2 separate regions of the Homo sapiens genome follow, and region 2 is linked to region 1. Evidence: fine-mapped expression QTL. Tissue or cell type: whole blood. Region 1 holds a variant in brackets; the other region holds the start of a gene. All regions are shown on one strand. Distances are from middle to middle.

Evidence for each region. PIP is the estimated chance that this variant, and not a neighbour inherited with it, causes the effect.
Region 2: ZNF333 starts here. The variant in region 1 is fine-mapped to the expression of ZNF333 in whole blood (TOPMed, PIP above 0.99).

Annotation. Positions count from the first base shown.
Region 1 is chr19:14,945,447-14,950,573 of GRCh38, reverse strand. It overlaps SLC1A6 (solute carrier family 1 member 6), which reads left to right. Exons shown (of 10, transcript NM_005071.3): 10 at 184-541. The coding sequence ends at 379. Among named protein-coding and RNA genes, the nearest start is that of OR7C2, 6.5 kb to the right of the region's middle. The variant A/G (reference allele first, on the strand shown) is at 2,126.
Region 2 is chr19:14,687,112-14,692,260 of GRCh38, reverse strand. It overlaps ZNF333 (zinc finger protein 333), which reads right to left and starts at 2,213. Exons shown (of 12, transcript NM_032433.4): 1 at 2,111-2,213. RefSeq lists silencers at 1,870-2,239, 2,570-2,619.

The sequences.
Region 1 (5,127 bases):
GTTTGTTAGTAGGAGAAACAGGGCAGAGAGGGGGAAGAACCTGCTTGGGGACATGTGGTCATGGATTGTACTGCAATGGGAGCCCTCTGACTCCCTGGCACAGGGACCCCCCTCTGCTGCACCCTCTTTCTGTGAAGCTTTTCAAGCCCCCATTAATGGCAGCTTCTTTCTCCCCTGTACCAGTGACCGGCTTCGCACAATGACCAACGTACTGGGGGACTCAATTGGAGCGGCCGTCATCGAGCACTTGTCTCAGCGGGAGCTGGAGCTTCAGGAAGCTGAGCTTACCCTCCCCAGCCTGGGGAAACCCTACAAGTCCCTCATGGCACAGGAGAAGGGGGCATCCCGGGGACGGGGAGGCAACGAGAGTGCTATGTGAGGGGCCTCCAGCTCTGCCCCCCCAGAGAGGAGGGAAGGGGGCTGGGGAGGGGAGTCCTGGTGACACATCTGTTGCCCAACTGACCGTGGGCTGAACACACGTTCTGCTTGACTCATTTAGGGGGGAGGGAAAAGTGAAATAAAGGAGCAGGAATGAAAGGTATATAAGGTCTCTGTTTCTCTCTGAGCATATGCTGAGGGCTTGAAGGACGGCGTGAGCAAGGGAGGGGAAGAAACGTTTCTCCTAGGTTTGGGGAGAAGGGAAGCTTCAGCTTCAACAAGAAGAGTGGTCAACTCATGTTTCTCACATTCTCAAAGAGTGGCGGAAGAAGAAGGTAAAGAAAAACCATTATTTCTCCTGATAAAACAATATCCATGGTCTCTGTGTCAGGGGTCCCCCAAGACCACCTTTAGGTTCAGCAATTCACTAGAAAGGCCCATAGAATTCAGGGTTGGGCGTGGTGGCTCCCGCCTGTAATCCCAGCACTTTGGAAGGCTGAGGCGGGCAGATCATGAGGTCAGGAGATCGAGACCAGCCTGGCCAACATGGGGAAACCCAGTCTCTACTAAAATACAAAAAATTAGCCAGGCGTGGTGGCAGGCGCCTGTAGTCTCAGCTACTCAGGAGGCTGAGGCAGGAGAATCACTTGAACCCGGGAGGCGGAGGTTGCAGTGAGCTGAGATTGGCGCCACTGCACTCCAGCCTGGTAACAGAGTGAGACTCTGTTTCAAAAAAAAGGAAAGACTCATAGAATTCAAGACAGGCGTGGTGATTCACACCTACAATCCCAGCACTTTCAGAGGCCAAGGCAGGAGGATTGCTTGAGTCCAGGAGTTTGAAACCAGTCTCAAAAAATAATAATAATAATAAAATAAAATAAAAAGACTCGTAGAACTCAGAAAAGCTATCATACTCACAGTTATGGTTTATTACAGTGAAGGGTAAAGATTAAAATCAGCAAAAGCAAAGGTGCATGGGACAGAGTCCAGGAGAGACCAGATGTGAGTTTTCAGTTCAGTAGAAATGCCCCTCGCAGGGCCGTTTTCAGTTCAGTAGAAAGCAATTATATCTCCCAGTAATGAGATATATATATATATATACACACACACACACACACACACAAGTATATATATACACGTATATATATACACACGTATATATACACACACACATATATATATACACTATATATACACGTATATATATACACACGTGTATATATATATACACACACGTGTATATATATATATATATATATGTATATATATATATATATATATATTTTTTTTTTTTCAGACAGAGTCTCTTTCTGTCACCCAGGCTTGAGTACAGTGGCAAGATCTCGGCTCACTGCAACCTTCACCTCTCAGGTTCAAGCAATTCTCCTGCCTCAGTCTCCAGAGTAGCTGAGATTATAGGTGCCCACCACCACGCCTGGCTAATTTTTGTATTTGTAGTAGAGACGGGAGTTTTGCCATGTTGGTCAGGCTGGTCTCAAACTCCTGACCTCAAGTGATCCGCAGCCCTGGCCTCCCAAAGTGCTGGGATTACGGGCGGATCACCTGAGGTCAGGAGTTCGAGACCAGCCTGGCCAACATGGTGAAACCCTGTCTCTACTGAAAATACAAAAATGAGCCGGGTGTGGTGGTGGCCACCTGTAATCCCAGCTACTCAGGAGGCTGAGACAGGAAGAATCGCTTGAACCCAGGAGGTGGAGGTTGCAGTGGGCTGAGATTGCGCCACTGC[A/G]CTCCTGCCTGAGCTACAGAGCCAGACCCCATCTCAAAAAAAAAGATAAATAAATCAAACAGAACAACAACAACAATAAAAAACCACTTTTGGACTGTTTTGTAATAACGGGTAGCTTAAATAAATTGTACAGCTGTACAAAAATGTTTTTTCTTTATATTCTTATTCTATATGGTTTTTTTTTTCTGTTTAAAAAATTTGTAACATACGCATTATCCTAGGCCTACACAGGGTCAGGATCATCAGTATTACTGTCTTCTACCTTCACATCTTGTCCCACTGGAAGGTCTTCAGGGGCAATACCACGCACGGAGTTGCCATCTCCTGTATTAACAATGCCTTCTTTTAGAATATCTTCTGAAGGACATGCTTGAGGCTGTTTTATGGTTAACTTTTTCTTTTAATAAGTAGAAGGAGTAACCTTTAAAATAGTGATAAAAAAGTATAATATAGTAAGTACACACATCAGTAACATAGTCGTTTATTTTCATTGTCAAGTATTCTGCACTATATACATAATTGTATGTGCTTGCCTTTTATACAGCAGGTGGAACAGTAGATTTGTTGACACAAACGTGTGAGTAATGTGTTGCATTCTGAAGTACAGTGACTATGAAGTCATTAGGCTGTAGAAAATTTTCAGCTCCGGGCCAGGCGCAGTGGCTCACACCTGTAATCCCAGCACTTTGGGAGGCCAAGGCAGGTGGATCATGAGGTCAAGAGTTGGAGAGCAGCCTGGCCAACACGGTGAAACCTCGTCTCTACTCAGAATACAAAAATTAGCCAAGCATGGTGGTGGGCATCTGTAATCCCAGCTATTCCGGAGGCTGAGGAAAGACAATTGCTTGAACCCAGGAGGCGGAGGTTGCAGTGAGCTGAGATTGTGCCACTGCACTCCAGCCTGGGCGACAGAGCAAGACTCTGTCTCGAAAAAAGAAAAAAAAAAAAAGAAAAGAAAATTTTCAGCTCCATTATAATCTTATGGGTTTACCATAATATATGTGGTCTGTCTTAGGCCAAAACATCATCATGTGGGGCATGACTGTATACCAATGCTGCTGGATAATGAAAAACAAATTCAGTAAAATAAGCTACTATATTATAGAAGTGACATTAAAATCAATGAGGGGGCCGGCCGTGGTGGCTCTCGCCTATAATCCCAGCACTTTTTGGGAGGCTGAGGCGGGTGGATCACCCGAGGTCAGGAGTTAGAGACCAGCCTGGCCAACATGGTGAAACCCCGTCTTTACTAAAAATACAACAATTAGCTGAGTGTGGTGGCGGGCGCCTGTAATCCCAGCTACTTGGGAGGCTGAGGCAGGAGAATCACTTGAACCCGGGAGGCAGAAGTTGCAGTGAGCTGAGATTGCGCCATTGCATTCCAGCCTGGGTGACAAGAGTGAAACTCCACCTCAAAAAAAAAAAAAAAAAAAAAAAAAAGAAAAGGAAAAAGAAAAAAAATCAATTTTTTGATTGAGGGAAGGAAGGACGTTAAAAATGGTACTTGGATAATTGGTTATTAATTGGGGAGCAAAATCAACTTAAATTCCTATCTTAACATCAACCACCATAATAGAATGAAGTTGGAGGAAAAATGTCAAATAGCAGCAGAATTCTAGAAAAAAAGATAGATTAACCCTCTGAGCAGAAATCCAGATGGAAGAAAGAGAAAAGAAGAGAACTGAGAAGATAACTGATGGACTCAAACATATTAAACAGCTGCAAGTAAAACAATAAAGATAATAAAAGATGAATGGAAAGCTGTGGAAATATTTAATAAATACATACATAAAAGAGATGTCTTTTATACACTCTCATGTTTGTTTCAGCACTATTCACAATAGCTAAGATTTGGAATCCAACTAAGTGTTCATCAACAGATGAATGGATAAAGAAAATGTGTTACATATACACAATGGAGCACTATTCAGTCATAAAAATTAATGAGAGATCCTATCATTTACAACAACATGGGTGGAGCTGGAGGATATGATGTTAAATGAAATAAGCTAGGCGGCCGGGCTTGGTGGCTCACGCCTATAATCCCAGCACTTTGGGAGGCAGAGGCGGGCAGATCACCTGAGGTCAGGAGTTCAAGACCAGCCTGGTCAATATGATGAAACCTGGTCTCTACGAAAAATAAAAAAATTAGCCGGACGTGGTGGTGGCTGCCTGTAATCCCAGCTACTCGGGAGGCTGAGGCAGATAGAATGGCTTGAACCCGGGAGGTGGGGGTTGCAGTGAGCCGAGATCGCACCATTGCACTCTAACCTGGGTGCCAAGAGCAAAAGTCCGTCTCAAAAAAAAAAAAGCAAAACCCAAACAACAACAACAAAAGAAATAAGCCAGGCACAGAAAAACACATTACATGTTCTCACTTGTATGTGGGAGCTAAAAAAAACTGAACTCATGGAAACAGAGTAGAATGATGGTTACCAGAAGCTAGGAGGGGCAGTAAGGAGGGAGGGAGGATAAAGAAGGGATAGTTAATGACTACAAAACTACAGTTAGAAGGAACAAAATCTAGTATTTGGTAGCACAACAGGGTGACTATAGTTAACAATAATTTATCGTATATTTCAAAATAACTAAAAAAGTGGAATTGGAATGTTAATAACGCAAAGAAATGATAAATACTTGAAGCGATAGATACCCCAATTACATTGATTTGATCAGTATATATTGTATGTGTAAAAATTTCATATGTGGCTGGGCGCGGTGGCTCACGCCTGTAATCCTAGCACTTTGGGAGGCTGAGGCGGGCGGATCACGAGGTCAGGAGATCGAGAACATCCTGGCTAACACAGTGAAACCCCGTTTCTACTAAAAATACAAAAAGTTAGCTGGGCGTGGTGGTGGGTGCCTGTAGTCCCAGCTACTCAGGAGGCTGAGGCAGGAGAATGGCGTGAACCCGGGAGGCGGAGCTTGCAGTGAGCCGAGATTGCGCCACTGCACTCCAGCCTGGGCGACAGAGCAAGACTCTGCCTCAAAAAAAAAAAAAA
Region 2 (5,149 bases), 260 kb after region 1:
TTCCTTTTCAGATGTGTTTCCTGACATCCTCCCCAAGTTCTCCTGTTCCACGTTCTCATATTGCCTTTGGCACTATTAATTTACCAATATTATTAGCTAGAATAAAGCCTCCACAGGGGCAAGCACTGTAACTATTTCAGTCCCACTGTTTCCCCATGTACAGGGTCCAATTCATTGAGGGCACCCCAGTGAAAATATGCCAAATAATCAACACTCCTCAAGAATGACTCAGTATAGCTAGCCTAAGAAGGAATATGCCCACGCACACACAAAACACAGTATGAGGCCAGGTATGGTTGCTCACGCCTATAATCCCAGCACTTTGGGAGGCCGAGGCGGGTGGATCACCTGAGGTCAGGAGTTCCAGACCAGCCTGGCCAACATGGTGAAACCCCGTCTCTACTAAAAATACAAAAATTAGCCGGGCATGGTGGCGGGCGCCTATAATCACAGCTGCCTGGGAAGCTGAGGCACGAGAATTGCTTGAACCCAGGAGGCAGAAGCTGCAGTGAGCCGAGATTGTGCCACTGCACTCCAGCCTGGGTGATGAAGTGAGACTCTGTCTCAAAAAAAAAAAAAAAAAAGACAATATGACACCATAAAAATCAAATATAAGAATAACTTAAAGTGCCTGTCTTTCATAAGACATAATCACACAAGTTTCAGGTACCTTTAAGAAACAATATTAATTCTTTTTAAAAAGGCAAGGCAAGCGCATATATTCTTTGTGGAAACAAACACCTCACTCGTAAAACTGAAATCTGATGCATGATTTTCCTCTGGAGTTAATTTTTTCCTGATTTCTCAGTAGACACGAGCTTTAACCCCATTATTAAAAAAGACATCCCACTTATGGCCAACTCAATTTGAATTTCCAGTATTAACAAAGTTTATATCGTCTTTTCCCTGAAGTTCCATTAGTTTTGAAGCTCTGTGATTCACATGCTTGGGGGAAGGACTGGAGCCAACTTGAAAAGATCTGAATAACAGTCTTAGGTTTTCTTGATAATAATATTTGTGAAATAACTGAGAAACGGCTTTTCTTAACCTAACAGTGAGAAACTTGATGCCCACAGCAGAAGTAAAAGTCGTCTCAAACATAGAAAATAAAGAAAAACAAAAACAAAAAAAATTAAGAACTCCTCCTTTTGTTGTTGTTTTTGTTTTTGAGATGGAGTCTTGCTCTGTCACCCAGGCTGGAGTGCAGTGGCACAATCTCAGCTCACTGCAACCTCCGCCTCTGGGGTTCAAGCGATTCTCCTGCCTCAGCCTCCCGAGTAGTTGGGATTACAGGCGCCCACCACTACGCTCGGCTAATTTGTGTATTTTTAGTAAAGACAGGGTTTCACCATGTTGGCCAGGCTGGTCTCAAACTCCTGACCTCAGGTGATCCACCCGCCTCGGCCTCCCAAAGTGCTGGGATTATAGGAGTGAGCCACCAAGCCTGGCCAAAAGCTTTCTTATGAGAAAGAAAAAAAAGAAGAAAGAAAAAGTTATGGAAAAGGAAGAGATGCAAAGCCAAGCTAACAGATATTAAGCTAAAAGACTTCAAATTGTCAGTCTCCAAAAGAAATCTCTCGTCATCTAATTCATTCCTTAATGGAGGATGCATTCAATTTTTTAAGTAAATTTGGCCAATCAATTAAACCAGTTTGCACATGTGGACCCAGACCTCACTTTCCAGTTGCAAAGCTAGATAATATTAAGTATCATATCAAATAAAACGTGAATTACTAATTCGCAGTTATCTTGCATACTGTAGGCAAGGTAGGGCCGTCTTTATGCACTTTCCCTAAAAATTGGGAAGGACAGGTGAGAGCTGGGGCCGGTGTCACCACATTTCTGAGCTGTGGGACCTGGACTGTTTGGGATTTCCCTTTTGACAGGATGACAGCCCTGTCTGCCCGGACGGGGGGTACCTGAGAGCGAGAGACCGGGCGGCGGGCGCCCAGATGCGAGGCCCTGACTGTGTGGGCCTCACGCCGGCCACCGGCTGATCGCAGGGAGGAAACCCCTCACACAGGCGGAGCTGTTCTAGGCCCTCCAGTCCCTCCCCGCGCCAGCCGAGCCCTCCCCGCCCTCCCCGCCCTCCCGAGGGGCCGGGCCACACCTGCAAGCCAGCCGGAGACACTCCCACCGTGCCGTGCCGCACCGCGCCGCGCCGCGCAGCACAGCTCAGCCGCCGTCGGCCGCCGCCGCGCGCACTTCCGCTTCCGGTCTCGGGGCCGCCGGGAACGGAAGTGGCTGTGGCTCAGGCTGTTGTGGCCAGGGTAGCCTTAGGCGGCGGCAGAGAAACTAACGTCTTCTTTAGCCTCCAAGGAGAAATTCTAGTATTCTTACCCGGGGGATGAGGTTAGGCTCTGGAGTGGGGTCCCACAGAGCATGGAGGGTGGTGCTGGGGGCGGAGCCTATGTCCGAGAGACAGGGATAGGGGTGGGGCTTAGGTCCCGGGGCAAAAGTGGGGCGGGGCCTGTGCGCGGGGGCGGGGTGGAGTGTGGCTTGCCCTCCGATGGCTGATGGGCGGGGCTTGCACCCCAATGGCGGAGTGGGCGGGGCCTTGGTTTGCAGGGTGGTAGTAGGGGCGGGTCGTGCGCCTCAGGGGCAAAAATGGGGCGGGGCTTGTGCTTGGGGTGGGAATGGGAGCTGAACTTGCATTCGGAAGGCGGGATGAGGGGACCTGGGCTTCAAGGGTTGAGAGGGGCACACCCGACCCCTCCCCGGGTCTCTTTAGGGATGCTCAATATTTAACTTACCCTTTTCTCCTTCCTTTTCCCCAACCCCTTCCACCTTTATCCATGGGCTTAATCCAATCCCCTACAAAAATATACCCATACTTAAGATTGTTTTTGTATATTTTTATACGGCTGACCCTTAGGCAACGGGAGTTGGGGCGCCACCCTGTGCAGTGGAAAATTCACTTCTTTTGACTCCCCCAAAACCTACCTACTAATAGACTACTGTTAACCAGAAGCTTTACCAATAACATAAAGTTAGTTAACACATATTTTGTATATTATATGCCATATTCTTAAAATAAACTAAGCTCAGAGAAAAGAAAGTGTTATTAAGAAAATCATGAAGAAGAGAAAATATATTTACTCTTCGTTACGTGGAAGTGATCGTAAAGATCATAAATAAACGTCTTCATCGTCAGCTTCACCCTGAGTAGGCTGAGGAAAGGGAGGGGTTTGTCTTGCTGTCCCAAGGAGGACAAAGGTAGAAAAAAATCTACCTATAAGGGGATAGCCACAGTTCAAACCCTTGGTGTTCACGGGTCAACTAACTGTCTTTATTCTAAAAATAGGACGATGTATTTTTGTTTCTTCTACAGCTTGCCCTTCTCACTAAAAATAAGATGTGTGAATCTAAGACATAGATCTGACTTTTTAAAAACTATTTATTATGTAGTATACATAGTACATACCTATGGGAAAAGTTCAAACGGGAGGCTCACTCTATTCCTAAATTTTCCTCCCCTGAAACAACCACTGTCACTAGTTCCCTGGTATTCTTTATATATCAAGCACATGTGCAGTCATGCACCACATAACAAGGTTTTGGTCAACCACGAAACACATACACAGTTGTGATCCCATAAGGTTATAATGGAGCTGAAAATTTCTTATCACCTAGTGATGTTGTAACTGTCACAATGTTGCAGTGCAACACATTACTCACATTTAAAAAGGTTTTAAAAATATGAAAAGACCGGGCGCGGTGGCTTACGCCTGCAATCCCAAGACTTTGGAGGCCGACGCTGGTGGATCACTTGAGGTCAGGAGTTCGAGACCAGCCTGGCCAACATGATGAAACCCCCAGTCTCTACTAGTAATACAAAAATTAGCTGGGCATGGTGGCATGCGCCTGTAATCCCAGCTATTCGGGAGGCTGAGGCAGGAGAATTGCTTGAACCCAGGAGGTGGAGGGTGCAGTGACCCAAGGTCTTGCCATTGCACTCCAGCCTGTGCAACAAGAGCAAAACTCCATCTCAAAAAAAAAAATGAAAAATAGCTTATAGAATAAGGATATAAAGAAAGAAAATACCTTTATGCAGTACAATTTATCTGTGTTTTAAGCTAAATGTTCTTACAAAGAAGTTGGGCCGGGCGGGGTGGCTCATGCATGTAATCACAGCACACTTTGGGAGGCCAAGGCAGGAGGATCGCTTGAGTCCAGGAGTTCCAGATGACCAGCCTGGGCCACATAGCAAGACACTGTCTCTAAAAATAAAAATAAAAGAAATGTATCATTTAAAAAACAAAATGTACAAAGGTTCAGTTATTTCAGATAAATAAGTTTTGGAGATCTAATGTACAGCATGGTGACTGTAGTTAACAGGAACATATTATGTACTTGAAATGTGCTAAGAGGGTAGGTCTTACGTGTTCTTACCACCAAAAAAAAAAAAGCAAATATGTGAGGCGATGGATGTGCTAATTGCTTCATTATTTCACTGTATGTATATCAAAACATCAAGTTGTACACCTTAAATATATACAATTTTTATTTGTCAACTATAACTCAACAAAGCCAGGAGTAAGAAAGGAGTCAGTGGCCAAGCATGGTGGCTCACGCCTGTAATCCCAGCACTTTGGGAGGCTGAGGCAGGTGGATCACCTGAGGTCAGGAGTTCAAGACCAGCCTGGCCAACATGGTGAAACCCCGTCTCTATTAAAAATACAAAAATTAGCCGGGCATGATGGCAGGCGCCTGTAATCCCAGCTACCCGGGAGGGTGATGCAGGAGAATCACTTGAACCTGGGAAGCAGATGTTGCAGTGAGCCGAGATCGCACCATTGCAATCCAGCCTGGGCAATAGAGCTAGACTCCGTTTCAAAAAAAAAGAAGTGAGAACATCCAGTATTTGGTCTGCTGTTCCTGTGTTAGTTTGCTAAGGATAATGGCCTCCAGTGCATCCATGTCCCTGCAAATAACATGAGCTGATTCTTTTTTACATCTGCATAGTGTTCTATGGTGTGCATGTACATTTTCTTTATATCGCCTGCTATTGATGGGCATTTAGGTTAGTTCCGCATCTTTGCTATTGTGAGTAATGCTGCAACGAACTTACATGCGCATGTGTCTTTATGATAGAATGATTTATATTTCTTTGGGTAGATACTCAGTAACGAGATTGCTGGGCCAAATA